2 separate regions of the Homo sapiens genome follow, and region 2 is linked to region 1. Evidence: fine-mapped QTL for protein levels in blood plasma. A gene starts in region 1. The other region holds a variant in brackets. All regions are shown on one strand. Distances are between the middles of the regions. Region 1 holds the start of NADK (NAD kinase). Region 2 holds the start of LOC112268218 (a long non-coding RNA gene).

Region 1 (11,236 bases):
TTTTTGATAGTGGCCTTTGCTTCTTTTTTTAAGTTTTATAAGTGAGTGCTGAGAAGTCAATGCCAGGGGCTCTGGATTTATCGATTGCGTGTGTGTGCGTGTCTTTGAATTTTAACAAGGCTGGCCATATGCTGCAGGTTAATTCCCCACGTGGATGCAACTTTCCCTCCCTTCCTGGCCGTGGGAGACTCTGGGTCTTGTCCCATGAGAGATGCACCATCCGTCCTCGTCACAACATGGCACACAGGTGAGATCGATGCCTCTGGGCTTTGGTGTGATTCTGCTGTTGTTTGCTCCCAGGTGTCTTGGCTGGGCATGACAACCGCGTCAGCTGCCTGGGCGTGACTGACGATGGCATGGCTGTGGCGACAGGGTCCTGGGATAGCTTCCTCAAGATCTGGAACTAACGCCAGTAGGTAATGCAGCAGCCCAAATGCCCTTCTCTGAGGAGAACTGTGCGTGTTTCTCATAGAACATTTGAAGTTGTCATTAACGGTTTCTAGATAAATGTTGATGTAGCATTGATTTGGAATTGTGTTGTGGGAAACGTTTACAGAAAGCTGAAGTCACGTGCCCTCAGCTGCAGACACTCATGCAGTGATGGGAAGAGCAGTGACCTGGCTGTGCGTCTGCACTTAGATTCTCTGCCTCTTTTCACATTTCTTTAAACTCTGTTTAAAACAGCATGTGGATGCCATGGAGACTGGAAGACCATTCCAACTTGGACGCGTTACCATGAGAGCATATCCTATCCAACCGTACTAACGTGGACACCCTACACCTCCCCTCAGAACTTCAAAAGGGCAAGATCTTTTTTCCTTCACTTATTGCTGAAACCAAGAGCACAATTCCCATTGAGAGAAAGATCTCTGTGCTGTAAACTAAAACAAATTGTGCATTCCTTCCGGGGCCATCGTCTTTGTTTTCTTTTTTGTCTTGAATGAATTTTAAAAGGAAATATATAATAAAAATGTTAACCAGAAGGTAAACTTGAGTGTAATTGTCAGACAGACACACTTTTCCACCAGTGTATTTGAATTTTAGACCAGTGACCCTGTTTTGTGGCATTCATGCAAAACATGCTGAGGGCTTTGTTCATCTGGTCATCGTGTCCAAATTTCAGTCATGTTTGTAGCAAGATTTTGGAAGCATTCATATTTCCTTTTTAAAATGTATTCCTTTGTGTTCAACAGTTAATCAAAACCAGAGAGTCTAGGGCAGCCTCTCTGATGTTGTCAATGATGTAAATTCAGTCCCTGGTTTTTAATTTTCTGTCTGATGTCACAGATCATTGTTGCACACAAACGTGGCATAGAAAAGAACATGTTCAGAAGCCATGGGGCCAAGCACATGCGGGGACGGTCTCAAATGCGTGATCAGAGAATCCTTCACCTTTGCTGAAAAGTGAGCTCAGATCCAGCACCATGTTCCTCCTGACCCATCCTGTCTATCTTCTCAGTTGAGTTTTTAATCTCACTTTGGGTTTCCTTGTGAAGTTGGAGGGAAGTTTATAATAGCCTAACACTACCCCACCCCCAACTAGGAGGAACCTCTGTTTTCAAGAGAGATGCCTGTCCTGTGCTTGGATAGTCAGTCAATTATTTGTGTATGAAACAATGTACAAATCAATGTTTTGAAAATAATGATCTCAGACTTTCTAAGTTAAATTTTAAAAATTTTGATTGTTTGCCATATTGGGTGGGTTTACTCTTAGAATCGCATGCTGTAGAAATGCTCAAAAGTGCATATGGGACTCAGTCCTTAGGTGTTCTTTTTCTTTTAAGAAATAACCTCTTACAGTTGTAACCATTGCGGCTCTGTCCACTTCTCGTTGCTGCTCTGTGGCACATATCGGAAGCAGTACAGCGCGCGGCTCTACACGCTTGGGTAGCGGGATAAGTCACTGTTTTCTTTATTTCTTTAAAAAAAAAAAAGTTCTGTTGCAAACGACTGCTGTTGGATTCTGAGGGTGGGGAGGGAGAGAGAGGGAGGGAGAGGGAGTGAAGAGCCTGCCCTCCTATATGGATTCTTCAGGGCCCTCCACATCTGAGGTGGCTCATTCCCATCACACACAGATTGTCCTGGTGTTCATTTCAAGGCCAGTGTTCAGCAGCAGCGTTTGGAAAGCAGGTTCTGTGGGACCCCCCGCCCCGCCCCCCGCACTCCTTCATAGCAGCAGTAGTGGCTTCTCCATCCTGTTTTCTGCAACATTCTATACAAAACTGTGCTGTGACCTTGCGGTAGGCCTGGATCTGGCAAAGAGAATACAAATGAAACCCCTTCTTTCTCTTTCCGTCCAACAACTCTGTAGAGCTCTCTGCACCCTTACCCCTTTCCACCTTTTGTATTTAATTTTAAAGTCAGTGTACTGCAAGGAAGCTGGATGCAAGATAGATACTATATTAAACTGTACTGTTATTTAAGATGTAATAAAGCAGTTTGACATGAGGGACTTTGGTGTGGTGATTATTTACGGGTCCACTTCCAGTTTGCAACGCGCCCGCTTCCCTAAGCTGTCCCTGTTGCTGTGAGGTCTGACGGGCCTGCTCATGCCAGGCGGTGCCATGGCCGCCACCACGTCACAGAATCCATGAGTGGCGCATTGGCTCCTCGGAGGGGTTCCTGGGAAGCTCCACCTCACAGGCCAGCAGAGCAGGGAGGTCCACCTGCCATCGCCCAGACCCCTCCCCAGGCATAGGCCTTGCCCACAGCACCGTGGGAGTCTCCACAGGCGGCTGCCTTGCCTTTCTCCTCTGCCATTTCCCTCCCTTAGAATGTCTGAGGATGTTACTCCAGAGACTAGCTTTCCTTGGGACTGAACTGAGTGTTCCTCTTGGTCTGAATATAAAGAACTGCATCTAGTAAGAAAAAAATGAGCACTGGCCATGGTAGTGTGGAAAACCATGGCTGTGTGTGTCCCAAATAGCCGCTCCTAGGCTCCAGAACCATCCACTTCCCTGCTTTCCAAACTGGTGATTTTTTAAAATCTTAAATAGGCAATACAAAATTAGCTGGGCATGGTGGCACACGCCTGTAATCACAGCTACTCTGGAGGCTGAGGCAGGAGAATGGCATGAACCCGGGAAGGCGGAGTTTGCAGTGAGCCAAGATCGCACCACTGCACTCCAGCCTGGGTGAGAGAGCAAGACTGCCTCTCAAAAAAAAAAAAAAAGTAATTTTTTAATTCCCATGGCTCCAGCAGCTGGAACTTTTTTTTTTTTTCTCCCTTGATGTGGAGTCTCGCTCTGTGGCCCAGGCTGGAGTGCAGTGGCGCTATCTCAGCTCACTGCAACTTCTGCCTTCTGGGTTCAAGTGATTCTCCTGCCTCAGCCTCCCAAGTAGCTGGGATTACAGGCACGTACCACGACGCCCCGCTAATTTTTTTTTTTTTTTTTTTTTGAGACGGAGTTTCGCTCTTTTTTGCCCAGGCTGGAGTGCAATGGTGCGATCTCAGCTCACTGCAACCTCCACCTCCCAGGTTCAAGCGATTCTCCTGCCTCAGCCTCCTAAGTAGCTGGGATTACAGGCGCCTGCTACCATGCCCAGCTAATTTTTTGTATTTTTAGTAGAGACAGGGTTTCACCATGTTTGCCAGGATGGTCTCGATCTCCTGACCTTGTGATCCACCCACATCAGCCTCCCAAAGTGCTGGGGTTACAGGTGTGAGCCACCGCGCCTGGCCCAGATGCCCGGCTAATTTGTTGTTGTTTTTTGAGATGGAGTCTCGCTCTTGCCCAGGCTGGAGTGCAGTGGCGCGATCTCGGCTCACTGCAAGCTCTGCCTCCTGGGTTCACGCCATTCTCCTGGCTCAACCTTCCGAGTAGCTGGGTCTACAGGTGCCCACCACCACACCCGGCTAATTTTTGTATTTTTAGTAGAGACGGGGTTTCACCATCTTAGCCAGGATGGTCTCCATCTCCTGACCTTGTCATCCGCCCTCCTCAGCCTCCCAAAGTGCTGGGATTACAGGCCGAGCCACCGCACCCAGCCAAACTTTTTCCTAGTAAGTGAAGAAGGCTCTCAGCAGAAAGTACCTGTAGGCCCCCTCCTCCCCTGGGCACCAGAGAACCCAGCAGCCCCTCCTCTAGGCTGGCAGTCCCTGGCCGGAGAGGCTCCCATAGGGCACTTGGGATTCACGGAGCAGGGCCCAGCCGCCCTGCTCCAGGCAAGGTGCTGGGTGTGTTTCTGACGCCACCAAGGGTGCCCATCTGCCAGCACTGCAAGTGACACTATGGCGTTGTCTCCCTGGTGGGGTGACCTGGTGCTGTTTTAGGCTGCTGAAGTGGGTGTGATTGGCAGGCTGAACGGGGTGGGCTCGCCTGGCTTCGTCATCCCCCACTTTTCCCTGAAATAAATCAGTTCTTCATAGACATGCAAGTTCTTCACAAGCCCTAACCCTGCCAGCTGTCTTACAAAAACCCCACTTAAAATCACTAGAGAGTTGAACTTGTCTTGGAGGCGTCAAAAGAAAAAAAAAATTAAAAATTAAATGCAGAGAGTACCTGAGGCTCTTTCCTGGCTGGCAGTTCCTGGGAGGGAGGGGCTCCAGCAGCCGGGAGGCAGGGTGCCGGCCTGCAGTGGCCTATCTTGGTCCCTGCCCAGAGTAAATAAAGGCCGAGCATCTCAGCACGGCTGCCACACCCCCGACTCCACTTCCTCCCTTTGGGGATTCCTGTTGGCTTCTGTGTCCTAGCCTGGCACCCCGCAGACTGAGGGAGCTGGCATGTGGGACCTGGGACCCTCTGGTGCCCCTTCCCCTTGGCTTTGGCCTGGAAGAGCCAGAGCTGAGGGGGACCCCTCCCTGGGGCGGCCTGCCTGTCCCTTGGCGGGCATGGAGGCCACTGCCCCACTTTCTTAGCAAAACAGGAAATGAAAACGGGCGCCAACAACGTGCACTTGGACAGCGGCACTGACTAAGGCAGTGTGGAAAGAGGAGGATAATTCCACACTGGCTGAGTGAACTGCAATCATTTTCAAACTGTAGGCACAGAAATCTAGTTTGTAGATTGCATTAGCCTGGCCTATGCAGGAGCAGCGCCCTTTGTCGCCAGCAGCTCCGCGGTGTGGGGGCCCCTGGCGCGCTTCCTGTGTCCGGGTCACCTGGCTCCGCCCCGCTTGCGCGGGCGCACCTGTCGCAGGTGGACACAGGCAGTGGAGTGACCTGCAGCTCGCTCCGGCTGTGGGCTGTTCCTGCAGGGCCTCGGACCTCCTTTGACCAAGCGGCGCGGGGTCGCCCCTGTGCTCCATGTCCCAGGGATGGAGGTTCCCCACCTCAATTTTACTCTAGCACGTGGCACGCACGTCCACACTTGAGCAGGACAAGGTTTCCGTTCTGTCCCCTCCGTGTCACGCACCTAGCAGAGGCTGGCCCTCAGCAGGATGCGTGGGGAGGCGCGCTCTGCCCACGCGAAACGGGGACACTTCAGCGGCCTGGCGCGGCCCCCCGCTCCCCCCCGAGCCGGACCTGGGAGCCTGAGTGACTGGGGCCAATAGAAGGGCCGGCCGGGAACCGAGCGCTCCCGGGAAAGGCCGCCTCGGCCCCTCCCACTACTCTCTGGCCTCGCCCTGTCCCCTACCCCCACCCCCCAGCTCCCTTTCCTCGCTGGGTGACCTTGAGCAAGTTACTTGGCCTCTCTGTGCCTCTGGCCCCCGCGTGAAAAATGTGGACAATAAACGTACCAGGCTGTGGCCGGGCGCTGTGGCTCACGCCTGTAATCCCAGCACTTTGGGAGGCCGAGGTGGATGGATTACCTGAGATCAGGAGTTCAAGACCAGCCTGGCCAACATGATGAAACCCCGTCTCTGCTAAAAATACAAAAAATGAGCCGGGTTCAGTGGTGTGCGCCTGTAACTCCAGCTCTGGAGGCTGAGGCAGGAGAATGGCTTGAACCCGGGAGGCGGAGCTTGCAGTGAGCTGAGATCATGCCACTACACTCCAGCCTGAGCTACAGAGCGAGACTTCGTCTTATACTAGGCTGCTTGGTAAGGATCTTGTGAGGACACAGGGAGTCCCAGTCCTGCCAGGTGGTTACTGTTGATGATCCCCGCCCACTCTAGGCTCTCACCACTTCAGGGTCCTGGTCCTTGCTGCTGCCTCTGCCTGAGAGAGAAACACTTGTCCCTGGGTACCTTGGTCAAAACTGTACCCCAACCCCTGCCTGCCCCCACCAATTCTGCTTCTTGCCCGTCTGCCCCACTAGAAGGTGAACACCTGATGGACTTTGGTTTCCACTGTTGAATCCTCAGTATGCCCTGCACATGGCTGGCATCCTGGGAAAGAGGTTGCCCCTCGCCCCAAACCAGGCCAAACAGAAGACTGTCATGTGAGCAGATCCAGACACTGGCCCCTGCAGACGCCCCTATCCTGGCTTTCAGCCTGGGCAGGGCCTGTGCCGGGTGCTGGCTGGAGGCTGGATGAGATGACCAGATAGCCTGCCATACTGATGTCCTTCACTGGGAGCCTCAGTCCTTCCCAGTCATCCTTTCCCCAGGCTCCAGGCCACTTACCCTTGTGGGTTCTGGGCAGACTTCGTTCACCCAGTTTACTGGAGCCAGGCCACCTGAAGCCAACTTCCCTCTCTCCTCAGCCTCCCCAGGAGCAACCTGTACCCCAGTGCACCCCATCCTGCTCCATCCCTCATGGCCTCCGTTCCCCCTTCTCCCTCCACCCTCCCCATCCCTGCTGACCCCCAGAAGAGGATGGGTCCAGGTTTTGGGGGTTCTGAAGTAAACAACATGGGAGCCATCCTTAAAGAATACAAAAAACAATGCGAAATTATGTGAAGAGTCCACTGCCACCTTGAGCAATGGCAGCCCTGGGGCTGAGGAAGGTCAGGGCAGGGGATGCCACCCACTGCTGCCCCATCCCTGGGGCCTGGTCAGGCAGGAGGGGGCCTTTCCTGACCCCCAATCCCTTGAAGGCAGAGCCTCTTCCTGTGCACCATCTGGCAGAAGCCCCCATGATAGCCCTGGACCCTTCTGTTCCTGCTGCGGGAACATCTCTTCCCTTTGGTCTCAGCCCAAGCAAAGCTGCCTCTTGGACCATTCTGGGTGCCCTAAGGAGCCTTCCCAGCTTTGGTCTTAGTTATTGCTGGCCAGGCCTGGGGTGAGGTGTGGGTGTGAGATCTTGGCCCCTGAATCTTCAAGGTCATATCCGGGGCCTGCCCTGAGAAATTGCACAACCTGTCAGCTGAAGGAAACCACAGCCCTGGTTTTGTTTTCTCATCTCTGAAACAGGGAAGCTCTCCTGCAGGCAGTGCCCAGGCCCAGGGTAGACAAAGGGTTTTCATGCCACAGACGGGGCAGCTGCTGGAGCTCCCTACACAGCGGGACACGCGAAGGGCACCTGCTGTGTGACCTGGGGCCCACGACAGTCACTGGTTGCCTCTGCAGAAGCAGTTGACTGCCTCCACTCTAGAAGATTCTACTGAGGCCTGGCTCAGTGCCTGGCTTGTGGGTGCGCCATCTAGATCAAGCATTATTATGCTAATGATCATATGCAAAAACTCAGCTCACGCATTATTATGTTAATGATCTTATCCGCCCCCTCTCCCCCCGCCAAAGAAAAAGAACTGGGCAGCTCAAGGCCGCTTCTGTGGGTGTGGCTGGTGGTCACTTTGAAACAGTTGGGTTTGCAAAATAACCCCGGGAGAAGTTACAGAGCTTAAGAAATCCCCCAAGTTCTCATGATCCTTGCTTCCCTTTCCAGTCACCCTTGGTGCCCTGTACTTCACTGTGGTCCTGAACTGAAGAGCTGTGTTTTTCAGGAAGACTTGGCCAGGCCGTGTTCCGTGTCTCTGGATTCAAGTCCCAGGAGTCCTGACCAGAGAGCAGGTATGCGGGTGTGGGGAAGGGCTGCAGAGGACTCAGGTCCACACCGACCCTGGGCCAGGTGATCACACAGAAAGTATAGACAGGGACTGAACCTCAGAAAACAATGGCTGGGCCAGGTGCAGTGGCTTACGCCTATAATCCTAGTACTTTGGGAGGCCGAGGCGGGTGAAGTTTGAGACCCAGCCTGGGCAAAATGGTAAAACCTCATCTCTACACACACACACACACACACACACAAATATATATATATATGAATGAAGTAGTCGAGTGTGGCGGGACCTACTTGTAGTCCCAACTACTAGGGAAGCTGAAGTGGAAGGATCGCTTGCACCTGAGAGGTCAAGGCTGCAGTGAGCCGTGAGCCCGCCACTGGACTCCGGCCTGGGGGACGAATGAGACACTATCTCAGAAAAACAAAACAATGTCTGGCACCTGGGGGACCAGCAGGTTAGAGCAGCTGGTCGTGCATTGCCAGTTTACCTGACAGTGACTCGAGAGCTGAGAACTGGGTATAGGGCACATTATTGGGATATTTGAGGCCTGAAGGCGCTGATGAGCAGCCACCAGTTCAGCAAGTGCGGGCTGGGTGGGACCCGCAGTTCCAACAAACACTACAAAGTCCGCTCCTGTGGCTTTGGCCTCCTCCCCCAACTCCCCGAGTCCTCCAGCCTGTGGGGTGCGCAAAACACGGCTCCCTGGTCCCCCTAGAGGTGCCCCAGGCCACCGGGTCCTCCCTCCACTGCCAGCCTTGGGATCCCAAGCGTAGACCTCTGAGGACGTTCGTGGGCGTGCAAGGCGCACCTGGCCGCTAGAGGTGGGCGTGAGGCCGATCGCGGTTCCCCCAGGCGCAGGGCCGCCCTCCCAGCCCCGACGGACAGCCCCGAGGGAGCGCAGCGCTGCCGCAGCTGCTCTAAGTTTCGGTTCCCAAATCCGGCTCGGCCCACACCGTGTCACAGCCCGGTAATTAGGGAAGCGGCGGCGGGCGGGGCCAGCTCTCGCGGGGCACCTGCACTCCCCTGAGCCGGCCCACGTGGTCCGGGAGGTCCCGCCCGCGGTGGCGGTGAGTTGGGGGCGGGACGCCGGGCTGGGATCACAATGTCGGGGGCGCCTAGGCGTAGACGTGGCGGGCGGACCCGGGGGCGCCCTCCGGACGCGGCAGGTGAGTGGGGACGGGAGCCGGGGGCCGCCCTCCTCGGGGCGCCGACCCCCGCCTACCCGAGTCGCGGACGCCCGCCCCTGTCCCCGCTGCCCGCCTCCACTCCCTGGTCACTGCTCTCCACCGCGATTCGCCCCTCTTCCCCACCGCCCGCCTCTTTCCCGCCACGCCCGCCGCCTCCCGCCCGCGCGGGGTGTCCCGGCGCCGGTGGGACCCGGCAGACGCGCGGGACGCCCCACGTGCGCGGCAGCGCGCATGCGTGGCGGGTGCGCCTGCGCAGTGGGCGGGCGCGGCGCATTGCTGCTCGGCGGCGCCGGCGCCGGGGTCCGGGCGGCCATGGGGCAACAGGCGGCCAGGGCGCCAAGGGCCAGGTAGCGACGGCTGGCGGCGGCGCGGCGGCGGGGCCTGCGGGCTCGGTCCGGCATGTAGACGCCCCCGCAGGCGCCCGCGGCAGCGAACGGTGAGTGAGCAGACCCGGCCTGCCGTCCGCCTGGGGTCGCCCGCTGCCTGGGGTCATCGCTGCCCGCGAGCGCGCGGCCAGGCGGGGAGACACCAGGCCGGCCCTGCCCATCTGGCCTGCTGAGGAGGCCGTGGAAGTGCTGACGGGCCACCGCTCCGTCCCGAATGGGGCACCAGCACGGCCCAGGGCGAGGCTCGGCCTTGGGGACGGGTCTGAGGGAGGCCGCTGTCCGGCCTGGCTCTCCCGGGCGGGGAAGGTGGGGCCGTCCAGCCCGGACCGCGCTTGTCAGTCGCCTCTGCTTGGGCGGCCAGGTCCTCGGTGTCCGGCCTTCCGTGGGTGGTTTCAGCAAGCAGGAGGGGTCTTTGACTCGTGAAAGCTTAGAGGGGCCCAAACCTAGTGGGAAAGTATGAATAAAAGATTCTATACAGCAGTATTGGCATGGAATTCTCTAAAAACACATCTCTGATTTAGTGCCCAGTACTTGCCAGAAAATTCCAATAGTCTATGGTGATGTTCCTACAGGCGGCTGCCATCCAGTAGGTCAGATGTCAGCACCGGCCTTGAGCTCTAGGTCGTCGTTTTTTTTCTTAATTGTGGGAACAGGGCGTGCCCAGCTCCGAAGGCCTGGTGGAGTTTTCCTTCCCAGGCCAAGGACCACCCCCACCCTCCCATCCCTCCTCCCCAAGCAATGAGATTCCTTTTGGCTTCGATTCCGAGTAACAAGTTATTTTTCCTTTCTTGTTTTGGAACACACTAAGTTTTACATTCAAAAGTTCATTATTCTTGGCTCTTGATGGGAATACATTTCAAAACTCTTCTCTTCTTGTGTTCCATGTCTCTCTGACAGCCTTAGTTGGCCTGAAACTGACATGTTTGCCTTAATAAGTTTTTTTTTCCTCCTGATGTCATCTTGTCTAAGAAGCTAGTTACTTTAACACCTTGTTAGATAATTCCCTTCAAGTACTTATTCCCCTGAACATTGTCCTCTCAAGCCTCTGGAAATTTCCTGTCCCCTTGGAACTTCTCTGTAAGGCCTGTTTGCTCTCAGCAGTGACTTCACTGGGACTTTTGCAGCCACTTTATGGTGTTAGCACGCTGATTCCAAGCTACTTGAGGAATCACAGGTGCCACCGCAGTACCCAACAAAATAGCTTCATCATTTGGAGGTGTCCTCTCGAGATGTTTCTGTGTGTATATGTGTGTGTATGTTAGAAACAGGGCCTCACTCTGTCCTCCAGGCGTGTTTATGGTGGCATGATTATAGCTCACTGTAACCTCAAATTCCTGGGCTCAATTGATCCTCCCACCTCAGCCTCCTGAGTAGCTGGGATTACAGGCCTGCACCACCACACCTAGCTGATTTATAAAATTTTTTGTAGAGATAGAGTCTCACTGTGTTGTCCAGGCTAGTCTCAACCTCCTGGCCTCAAGAGATCCTCCTGCCTCCACTTCCCAAAGTGCTGATCTTACAGACGTAAGCCACTTTGACCAGTCTTTTTTTTTTTTTTTTTTTTTTAAGACAGAGTCTAGCTCTGTTGCCCAGGCTGGAGTGCAGTGGCACAATCTCGGCTCACTGCAACCTCCACCTCCCGGGTTCAAGTGATTTTCCTGCCTCAGCCTCCTGAGTAGCTGGGATTACAGGCGCCCACCACCACGCTCAGCTAATTTTTGTATTTTTAGTAGAGACGGGTTTCACTGTGTTGGCCAGGCTTGTCTCGAACTCCTGACCTCGTGATCAGCCCACCTTGGCCTCCCAAAGTGCTGGGATTACAGGTGTGAGCCACCAC
Region 2 (9,548 bases), 33 kb after region 1:
ACCTGAAGCAAGGAACACAGCATGGGTGTCCTTTGATGGACGGAAGAGACAAGAGATCCGCCATGGAGACAGGTGTGGGCTGCATGCCGGGCTGGGCGCTGCCTGCCAACCTCCTCCCCGGGCCAGGCAGCGCCTGCCCTCTTGCGGTTGGCCTGTAGACACAGCTTGTCCCCTAGGGCACCACAGGGCCTGAGTCCCTGGGTCTTGCAGCATCACAGTCGGGGCACCCGTCCTGGGGGCAGCGGGTCGCATACGGTGGCACATGCAGGCCTGGCCCCAGCAGAGGCCTGAGGGTGTCCCCCCTGGCACTGCTGCCCACCCCCACCCACCTCCTGGGACCTCACCCCTGAGGGCCCTGGGGCAGAGTTTGTCAGTTCCCTGCACCGTCCCCTCCAGGACCTGGGATGGCTCTGTCCCAGCACCCATGGGGCACTGCTCAAGCCTGCCTCGGGGAGGGGCTGCCCGGCCCCACAGGAAAAGAGTCCCGGCCATTCCCAGGGAGGGAGGGAGGAAGGGTTCTTGGCCGGGGGTGGGCCTTTCTGGAAGCCCTGGCTCAGGCTGCTGCTCTCCCGTCCCAGCATCAGCATCACTACCTCATGCTACCCGCTCCCCTCCATCTGTGTGCGGGACCCCGTGAGCGACTGGTTTGAGAGCCTCGCCCAGTGCCTGCATTGGAACGTCCGGAAGAAGCAAGCCCACTTCGAGGAGGAGGAGGAGGAGGAGGAGGAGGGCTAGGTCAAGCCCCTATCCAGGCCCGAATCCTTCCGCTGCCCTCCAAGCGCCCTCTGGGGACAGACCAATCTGCGTGTGTCTGTGACCGCCTGTCTCAGTGGCACGGCCACTTCCTTTCTGTAGCTGGGTTAGAGCCTGGGTCTGCCTTTTGTCCAGATCAGCTGTTTTTTTAAAATGTCTGACTTTTTTTGCATTTCTAAAGAAGCGTGAGAAATGGGCTGGGAGTGCTTCTGTCCTGCTGACACCCCGCGGTGGGTCCCTGGAGCGCGGCCTCCAGCTGCCGCAATTTCCATGCCAGGATATTTTTCCGCAAATCAGTCGGTTGAAATTCAGAGGAGTCAGAATGACTCGACCTGTCCTTCAATGTTGATAATAAATGTCTCAGCCAAAAACCTTCCTTGAGCTGCCATGCTTTTCCCCTTGACCTGCACCTCTTCCCCTAAAACTTCTGCAGGGAAGCCCCTGGCGGAGGCGCCATTGAAAGCATGGTCTTGCCAGTGGCTGGCAAGGCGGTTTTGTTCTGCTCAGTTTCTGGAGAGGGTTGGATGCGTCCCCTGCCATCCAGCCCTCCCCGCTTGAGGCCAGCACTGAGTCTGGGACACTCAGCGGGAAGGGGGCTGGCATCGCCAGCGACCCACACATTCCTCACGTAGCTTCTGCTCCCAGGAAGGTAGTTTAAATCCTGTATATACTTTTTAGAGACTCTTTTAAACTTTCTGAAGTGCTGATGTACATACTTTCTCGTACACACTTTTGTGAAGATTTCAAGGGGAAGGGAGTCGTCTGCCATTCAATGTTTACATTTATGTTCTGCAAGACGCTGTCCTCAGGGACCATTAGGGGACCATTCTGTTCAGTGCGATCCTGATGGTCCGGGAGATGAGGGTTTCCGGGGCTAGTGATCGTGATCCCTTTTATTTGCAACTGTAATGAGAATTTTTCACACTAACACAGCGAGGGACTCAACACGCTGATTCTCCTCCTGCCTCTCCCGTGAGTCTCCAGCCTGCCCAGCACCGGCAGCTGTGGAGCACGTGGATGCTGCCTACCCCGGCGCCCGCGTCTTCCACGGGCACAGGTGTGTGGAGGCCGTGGTCGGACCCTGGTGTCCTGGTTACTGCTGCCCGGGTGTCTTTTTTTTGAGTAACTGCTCTCTGAGTTTTGCACACGAAGTTGCCCTCATCTGCTGGAGATCGATAAGGAAGGCACAAGACGTTCTCCTCTGCCCGTGAGGAGCTTCCCGCAGCCGCCTGGCCCAGCCTGGGCACGTTCTCCGAGGCATGTGTCTCCCTGCTCACCCTCGTCTGGGCACCTCAGCATCTGTGGACTTGAGCGTCCAAAAACCCTGAGTGTGATTCTGGGCAGCCGGCCTGGCTTGAAGTCCGCCATGACCCTGGGCACAGGGGAAGCCCAGCCGTGGGCTTAGGAGAGAGGGACCAGCGCCCAGCGTTAGGGCTGGAAGACGGCAGTGTTCAGAATTCCAGCCGCTCATCTGAACACAGAAGGTGTGAACTGACCTCTAAAGCAGCGTGAGATGGGAATGATCTAGAAAACTTTGGATTTTTGAAGTAAATTTTAATGTTTCATATTAATTTCTTGAAAATGTATTAAATGTCATTGAAAGCCTTATTACGCTTTTCAGATCCTTTCAATAAACAAGACTTGTAGAAAATAAGCTGGGTTAATAACAGCTTTCTTCTGACGCCGTGGAACCAACATAGAGGGGTCGGGCAGGGTCACCCCCATTAAATCCTAGCCCCAAAATGCCCATCCACCGAGTGTGGGGCCGGCAGGGCATCCTCCCCAAGGGGCTGGGGGTGCCGCTGCCTCTTCCGGGCAAGGGGGCAGTGCCCTGGCGGGGGTAGGGGTAGACAGAAGGGACTCAAACCCGAGGGGTGGTGTCGACTCGGGCAGGCTGTGTTGCTCCCGGAAGAGCCACTGAGACCAGGGGGAATTGAGTCCCTGCATTCCCGGGGCCAGCAGGGCTGGAAGAGCCCCTCCATCCGGGCTGCCTAACAGGGGCAGCCACAAGCCAGGTGAGGACCCGCTGGCCCCTGGGCCCAGCCTGGGCACCGATATCGGCCTCCCTCCCTCCACTGACGTGGTCCTGCGCCCCGCAACCCCCCCACCCCGCACCGTCCCTGTTGTCCTAACAAGGCCCAGATGAATGTGGCTCAGGGCTTTGCCGGCAGCCAGTCTGCACTACACGCGTGCAAGTCCAGGAGAGACCAAAACGACCACCCTGTGGACACCTGCGCCTCCAGCACCCTGCCCCGTTTTGGGGACGTGAAACCCTGGGCTGTGGGCCCCGCCCTACCGACCTGGAGCGCCTCTGCCTCCCCGGCCTGGAAGAGGCTGTGGGTCAAGCCTAACCTTCTCGGCTTTGGGGAGCACAGAGTCCCCAAGACATCCTCGGGGGCTGCCGGGCTCAGGCTCTGGGGCATGGAAACCTTTTCGAGCCTGAAACGGCGGCATCCACGGTCCCTGCCGGGCCAGTGCCAGCCTGCACCCTGGGCACCTCTGTGCTGGGCCCGGCACCCCCACCCTGCCTCCCACAGCCAGGGTGTCTCCTCAGGTCAGGTCCAAAGGGGCTGCAGCCAGGCCCAAAGACCCAGCCCAAGTCCCATGGCTCCTGCGGGGTCTGGGTGAGGCCTGTCCTGCTGGGAGCCCAGGAGGCTGCGACCCTGCCTGGAGCTGGAAGTCTGGTTGGGGGGTGGTAGCAGGGTGGGGCGGGTACAGGGTAGAGGAGCCGGCCGGAGGAGCCCAGGGAAGGCTGGCGGTGCTGGGGATGTAGGGGACAGCAGGAGCTGGTACATCACCACGTGGTTCAGCTGCTTCCAGCACATCCCGCCCCAGAAGGATCTCAGCCAGGGCATGGGCTGCCTTCAGGGTCTGGCAACACCAAGGAGCCAAGGCAGGTGGTAAACCGAGGCCACAACCTCCTTAGGAGCCTCCACAACCAGGGCGCACAGCTGAAAGAGGAAGGAGGCCCCTGCGGAGAGCAGGGTGGGCAGGAGTGGGTGGCCAGGACAGGTGGTGCCCAGTGACCGGCGGTGGGGACCCGGGAGCCACAGAGGAGCTGGCTCAGCCACCCCTGTGCAGGAGGCACCTGGGGCCTGTACTCAGGCCTCACCCAGGGCTGCCCCACGCCCACATCCTGCTGACAAGCCCCCAGGACCAGCATCCCCACCCAGCTGCTCTGTGCAGAGGGGACAGGAGGCCAGACAAAAAGATGGACAAACACCCACGTAGATTCACACACACACAAACAGACACACCACACAGAAAAATATGCATGGACGCCACTGAGACACGCTAACACCACACACTCAGACACAAACACACCACACACACAGACTCACACAGATACACACAGAGAAAAATACACATGGACGCCACTGAGACACATACACTCAGAGACAGGCAGTGCGCTCTGGGCAACAGGAAGCTTCCTCCAAACCAGTGAAGGGCCCAGGAAAGCATGAGCGGCCCTGACGTGTATGGAGGGTCCAAAGGCTGCGGGAACTTGCCCGTGAGTGACCTTGGCCTGGAGAACTCCCCGGCCTCAGTTTCCCCACCTGCTGATGAGGACAAACTGCAGGGGCATGAGCGGCTGCTGCTCCCCTACTTCTGCGCAGGTGGCCGAGTGGCCTGCAGGCTGGGTCTCCAGGTGGGGACGCTTCCTTCTTCCTCCCCACCCATGGGGCCTTGGCACAGACCCTTCTCTGGGGC[C/G]TCAGTTCACACCCCACACTTCCCTGCTGTCCTCAACGCCCCTTGGGAAACTTCAGCTCCTTTGGGCCGGCAGGTCTCACCCTCCTCCCCAGCGGGAGCCCAGACCCAGACTGAGGCTGGCTGGGGGACAAGGAGGAGCCTGTGGGCCGGGGGGGACCCCGAAGGGGGCAGGACAGAGCTAGCCATGACTGCTTTCCTTCCTGCCTTCTACATCATCCAGGACCTGAAGGCAGAGGAAAGGAATCCCACAGCCCATGGGCCGCTCAGCCTGGGTAGACCCTGCCCCGAGGTCAGCAGACGGCAGGGAGACCCAGAGAGGCTGTGAAGCAAGAGCAGCACAACCCGGAAGGTCCCAGTGAGCCAAGGATGCACTTTGGAGGCGGGGTTTGCACAGCGCCTGGACCCATCAGTCTCCCACACAGCGAGGGCGTCCTAACTGATTCCTAACTGACTCCACGTCATGTGGATAGAAATTCATTAATATGCATAACAAATGACTACATGCAAGCAGGAAAACATTTGCAATAATACAGCAGGTCGATGTTCTCAACTAGGAAAACAGTTGCAATAATACAATGCGTGGATGTTCTCAATACAGTCAAAGCTCATATAATCAACACAAAACATTCACAGAAAAATTGTCAAAGGGCAGAAACCGATGACTCAAGGAAGAATATAAATAGCTAAGAAGTAAATGATCAATAATCAAACTAGAACATAATCAAAGAAATTTAAAATTAAAATTATTAATACACTCCTCCCAGGCAAAATAGCAAAGAGAGGGGACATGGTGGCTCACACCTGTAATCCCAACACTTTGGGAGGACGAGGTGGGAGGTCCTTCTGGGGAGAGGAAGAGAGGAAGGCACACAGGCTTCCAGACACTATTCCAAAATCATTAATACGCACACCCCAGGCCCAGCACGGTGACAGCCACCTGCAGACCCAGCTACTCGGGAGGCTGAGGCCAGAGAGCCCTGAGTTTGAGCCCAGCCTGGGCAAAGTAGCGAGATCCCCCATCTCAAAAATAAAATAAAATGCATGGTTCCTCATGAAATGTAAGGCTTTGCTATAAAAACTTTGAGAGGCCAGGCGTGGTGGCTCACACCTGTAATCCCAGCACTTTGGGAGGCCAAGGTGGGTGGATCATGAGGTCAGGAGTTCAAGAGCATCCTGGCTAACAACGGTGAAACCCCGTCTCTACTAAAAATACAAAACAATTAGCTGGGCATGGTGGCGGGTGCCTGTGATCCCAACTCCTCGGGAGGCTGAGGCAGAAGAATCTCTTGAACCTGGGAGGTGGAGCTTGCAGTGAGCCGAGATCGCGCCACTGCACTCCAGCCTGGGCGACAGAGTGAGACTCCGTCTCAAAAAAAAATAAAGGCCGGGCGTGGGGTAGCTCACGCCTGTAATCCCAGCACTTTGGGAGGCTGAAGCGGGCAGATCACAAGGTCAGGAGATGGAGAACATCTTGGCCAATATGGTGAAACCCTGTCTCTACTAAAAATATAAAAATTAGCTGGGCGTGAGGGCACACATCTGTAATCCCAGCTACTCAGGAGGCTGAGGCAGGAGAATCACTTGAACCCGGGAGGCGGAGGTTGCAGTGAGCTGAGATCGTGCCACTGCACTCCAACCTGGGCGATGAGAGCGAAATTCCATCTCAAAAAAAAACAAGGAGTACTTTTTATAAATCTGCTTTTGAAATCATTTGGATACCACAGCGGCCCTGCTGACCACAACAGCTGAGACTGTTGGGCAAATCACCAGACATTTCTGGGTTTCCTGGAAAGTAGGAGAATCTACTTTGTAAACTGCTCTCAAATTTATGAACTCCGTGTGGATAGTGAACTCAGGCAGCAGGCAGGTGGCACTCCACTGCGTTAATTTCACTTCATTTTATAATTTTCTTTCTTCCTTTTTTTTTTTTTTTGACGGAGTCTCACTCTGTCGCCAGGCTGGAGTGCAGTGGCGCCATCTCGGCTCACTGCAACCTCCGCCTCCCGGGTTCAGGTGATCCTCCTTCCTCAGCCTCCGGAGTAGCTGGGATTACAGGCGCCCGCCACCACGCCCGGCCAATTTTTGTATTTTTAGTAGAGACGACGTTTTACCACGTTGGCCATACCAGGCTGGTCTCAAGCTCCTGACCTCGTGATGCGCCGGCCTCGGCCTCCCAAAGTGTTGAGATTACAGGCGTGAGCCACCGGGCCCGGCCCAAAAGTAATCTCTAAAGAGCCCTTTAGCCGTAACTTCATTCCTGAAAATTATTTGGGAAAGTAACGCTAGGAAAACGCTCGACGAAGCTCCGGAGCCGGGGGTCCTCGGGGCCGCAGGCGCGCCCGCGGGTGTCTGCTCCGGATGTCCCGCGGCAGCCCCGACGCCAGCCTGGATACGAAGGCCCCGCCCCGGAGCGCGCCACCAGCCAATCAGCGCCCTGAGGCGAGTCCTCACCCCGCGCGGCGGCCCCGCCCCCCGCAGCTCCGGGCCCAGCTGTCAGAGCAGCTTTCCCTCAGGCTGGGCGGAGCGTGGCCACTTCCGCCAGGAGGCGCCTTTGTGTCTTCTAAGTTAAGCCTATTCAGTGGATTTCTTATTCCTGGAACCCAAACCTGGGCAGTAAACCCTCCGGGGCTTAGAGGCCGCTGCCTCCACAGACTGGCCGATCCCGCCCTGAAGTGCCGCTGGTGGAACAGCCCGGGCGGAACCAACGGGCTGCCGCGGGGGGTGGGGCCACGGTTCCCCCCCCTTCTGCCTTCAGTGGAACGGCCCCGGCGGAACCAACGGGCCACGGGGATGCACTACGCGCACCGTCGTCCTCTCCCTCTGCCTGCAGTGGAACGGCCCGGGCGGAACCAACGTGCGGCCGCCCGGAGCACTCGGCGCGCCGTGTCCCTCCCCGTGTGGCTGCACTGCAGCGGCCCGGGCTGGACCACCAGGCGGCCGCGGAGAGGCACTTAAAAGCCCCGTGTTACCCTAGACCTTAAAAAAAAAAAAAAAAAAAACTGCGTGTTTCCACCCCCGTCGGCCTGCAGTGGAAGGGCCCGAGCAGAACCAACGGGGCAGGGGACGCTGAGCGCGCCGTGTTTCTCCTCCCGTCTGCCTGGAGTAGAACGGCTCGGGCGGAACCAACGGGCAGCCGCGGGGGCGTTGTGGGCCGCGGCGCGTTTCCCCGGCTCCGTGGCTCTGGGGCACTGAGGAGCGGCGCCCGCGGGGCAGCGAGGAGCCCGATGCAGGGTTCTGCGCGTCATTTCCGGTCCCGCGGGCGCCCCGTGAAGCCCACCTGGATCCGCCAGCGCTGTGCCACTCCCCAGTGCCGAGCTCCGAGCTGTCTCCGCGGCCTCGCGCCCGGCCCCTCCACCGCGCACCTCTTAGGCCCCGCCCGCCAGCGTCCCTTTGTTGTGAAGGCGCCGGGGCCTAGCGCTATGCCTGCGGCGGAGACTGCATCAGGCTCTCGGTGGGTTCTGCGTGCGGGGTGCTCTGCTCGGTGATCGGTGCTTGGTGCTGCGTGCTCGGTGCTCGGTGCTGGGTGCTGGGTGCCGGTACTGATGCTGAGTGTGCGGGCGTCCGGGGTTTCCCTGCCCGGATTCGCTCCTGGGGGTCCTTTCCTATGGCTGGCGCTGTGCGCGGAAAACGCTGGTGGGGTTTTCCCAGCTGGCTTTAAGCGTTTTCACGTCCGGGAGTCCACGGCGACCCCCACGCCCTGAAGCCTGGGAACGCGGTGTGCGTGGCCGCAAAAAGAACAACAACAACAAAAAAACACAAAACAAAACACGCAAAAAACTAAAGCAAAACTCCCGACAGCCGAGCCCCGTTCGGTGCCTTTTCTTTTTTTTTTTCTTTAATGGAGTGAAATCTACTTTGCTCAGGAAGCCTGCAAATCACATTTTCAGGCCAAACGAGGCAGTATTTTAGAAGGGGTCGCTGAGGCAGGAGTAGGAAGGCTTTCCACTCCACTCACGCATTTTCAGTGTAGGCGAATCGTAAAACGGAGGGCAGAACGAAAATGAGCGGATCTGGGAGTGCAGGCTGCGCTTCGTCCACATCGATAACAGATGTTTCCTGGTGAAGATGTGTAGGGCGCAGCGGGTCACCTGGTCGGGGGAGGGCACAGGGCGTCCCTCCACGGGGTGCCTTTGGCGTTGGGCACTTGTGTGGTCTCCAGCTTCCGGGTTTTGGAAGCGGAGTGTCCCCTGCAGCCTGAGCCTCTTGCAGGTGGTTTCCTTGGGACGAACTCCCAGGGGGAGGTCTGAGTTCTGGGGCGTGGTTTGAAGATTTGGGACACATTTTGCCTGAAATTCCCTGCTGGCCGTTTGAACCCACCTGGACTTCCTGACCAGGGGCACGGATTCTTAACCTCTGGTGCAGGGGCCTGGCTAGGAGAGGTCTGCACAGTTGGACGAGGTGCAAAGTGACGCTTTGTCAGTAACCCGGCGTTGAGATTCCTGTGGTGGGACGAGCAGCTCCTATGGCTTTATCCCATTTTAAATCCAAGTTTTCTTTTCCTTCTAGTCCTCGGGCTCCACCCGGGGAGCTGTGCCCAGACAGCAGAAGGGAAGGATGTCACTTCTGAGATGAGGTTCAGAAAGGCCTGGGCTCCTGTCCTGGCTGCTCTCTCCCACTCCCTGATGAGCTTGCTGGATGAAAGCTCCTGTCAGGCTGTGGGGCGTCCTGTGGAGAAGCTGGCAAGAAACTGGTGGGGGCCCTTTCCACCTATAGCCAGCAAGGAACTGAACCCAGCCAGCGTCCACCTGAGTGAGCTCAGAGGTGGGCCTCAGCCCCAGTTGAGCCTTCGGATGAGGTCACAGCCCTGGTCCATGGTGTGACTGCAGCTTCAGGAGGGACCTTAAGCCAGAGGTGCCTGGCTAAGCTTCCCGCAGATTGCTGCCCCACAGGAGCCAACATCAAAAGCATTTGTTGTTTTGAGGTGGTAAGTGTGGAATGACTGTTACAGGGCAGTAGAGAAGGAGCATGCACCCTTCCTGCTTCTTATTTGCCTTTTAGAAATTGTCCTCTGTGAATCGCTTGAACCTGGGAGGTTGAGGTTGCAGTGAGCTGATATCTCACCACTGCACTCCAGCCTGGGCGAC

What was found. PIP is the chance, under the fine-mapping model, that this variant and not a neighbour inherited with it causes the effect. The UK Biobank Pharma Proteomics Project read protein levels with antibody pairs (Olink). The fine-mapping took linkage between variants from a reference panel, not from the people measured, so its PIPs are less certain.
Region 2: its variant is fine-mapped to the plasma level of the NADK protein (UK Biobank, PIP above 0.99).

Annotation. Positions count from the first base shown.
Region 1 is chr1:1,776,502-1,787,737 of GRCh38, reverse strand. It overlaps NADK (NAD kinase), which reads left to right and starts at 9,268. Exons shown (of 12, transcript NM_023018.5): 1 at 9,268-9,449. It overlaps GNB1 (G protein subunit beta 1), which reads left to right. Exons shown (of 12, transcript NM_002074.5): 11 at 301-416; 12 at 685-2,452. The coding sequence ends at 407. RefSeq lists enhancers at 4,584-4,753, 7,063-7,162, 7,173-7,242, 7,253-7,312, 7,323-7,492 and silencers at 4,674-4,968, 8,553-9,752.
Region 2 is chr1:1,744,091-1,753,638 of GRCh38, reverse strand. It overlaps NADK (NAD kinase), which reads left to right. Exons shown (of 12, transcript NM_023018.5): 11 at 1-72; 12 at 579-2,407. The coding sequence ends at 735. It overlaps LOC112268218 (a long non-coding RNA gene), which reads right to left and starts at 7,820. Exons shown (of 2, transcript XR_002958243.2): 1 at 7,742-7,820; 2 at 1,897-3,724. It also overlaps the pseudogene SLC35E2A. RefSeq lists an enhancer at 1-515 and a silencer at 7,288-7,337. The variant C/G (reference allele first, on the strand shown) is at 4,465.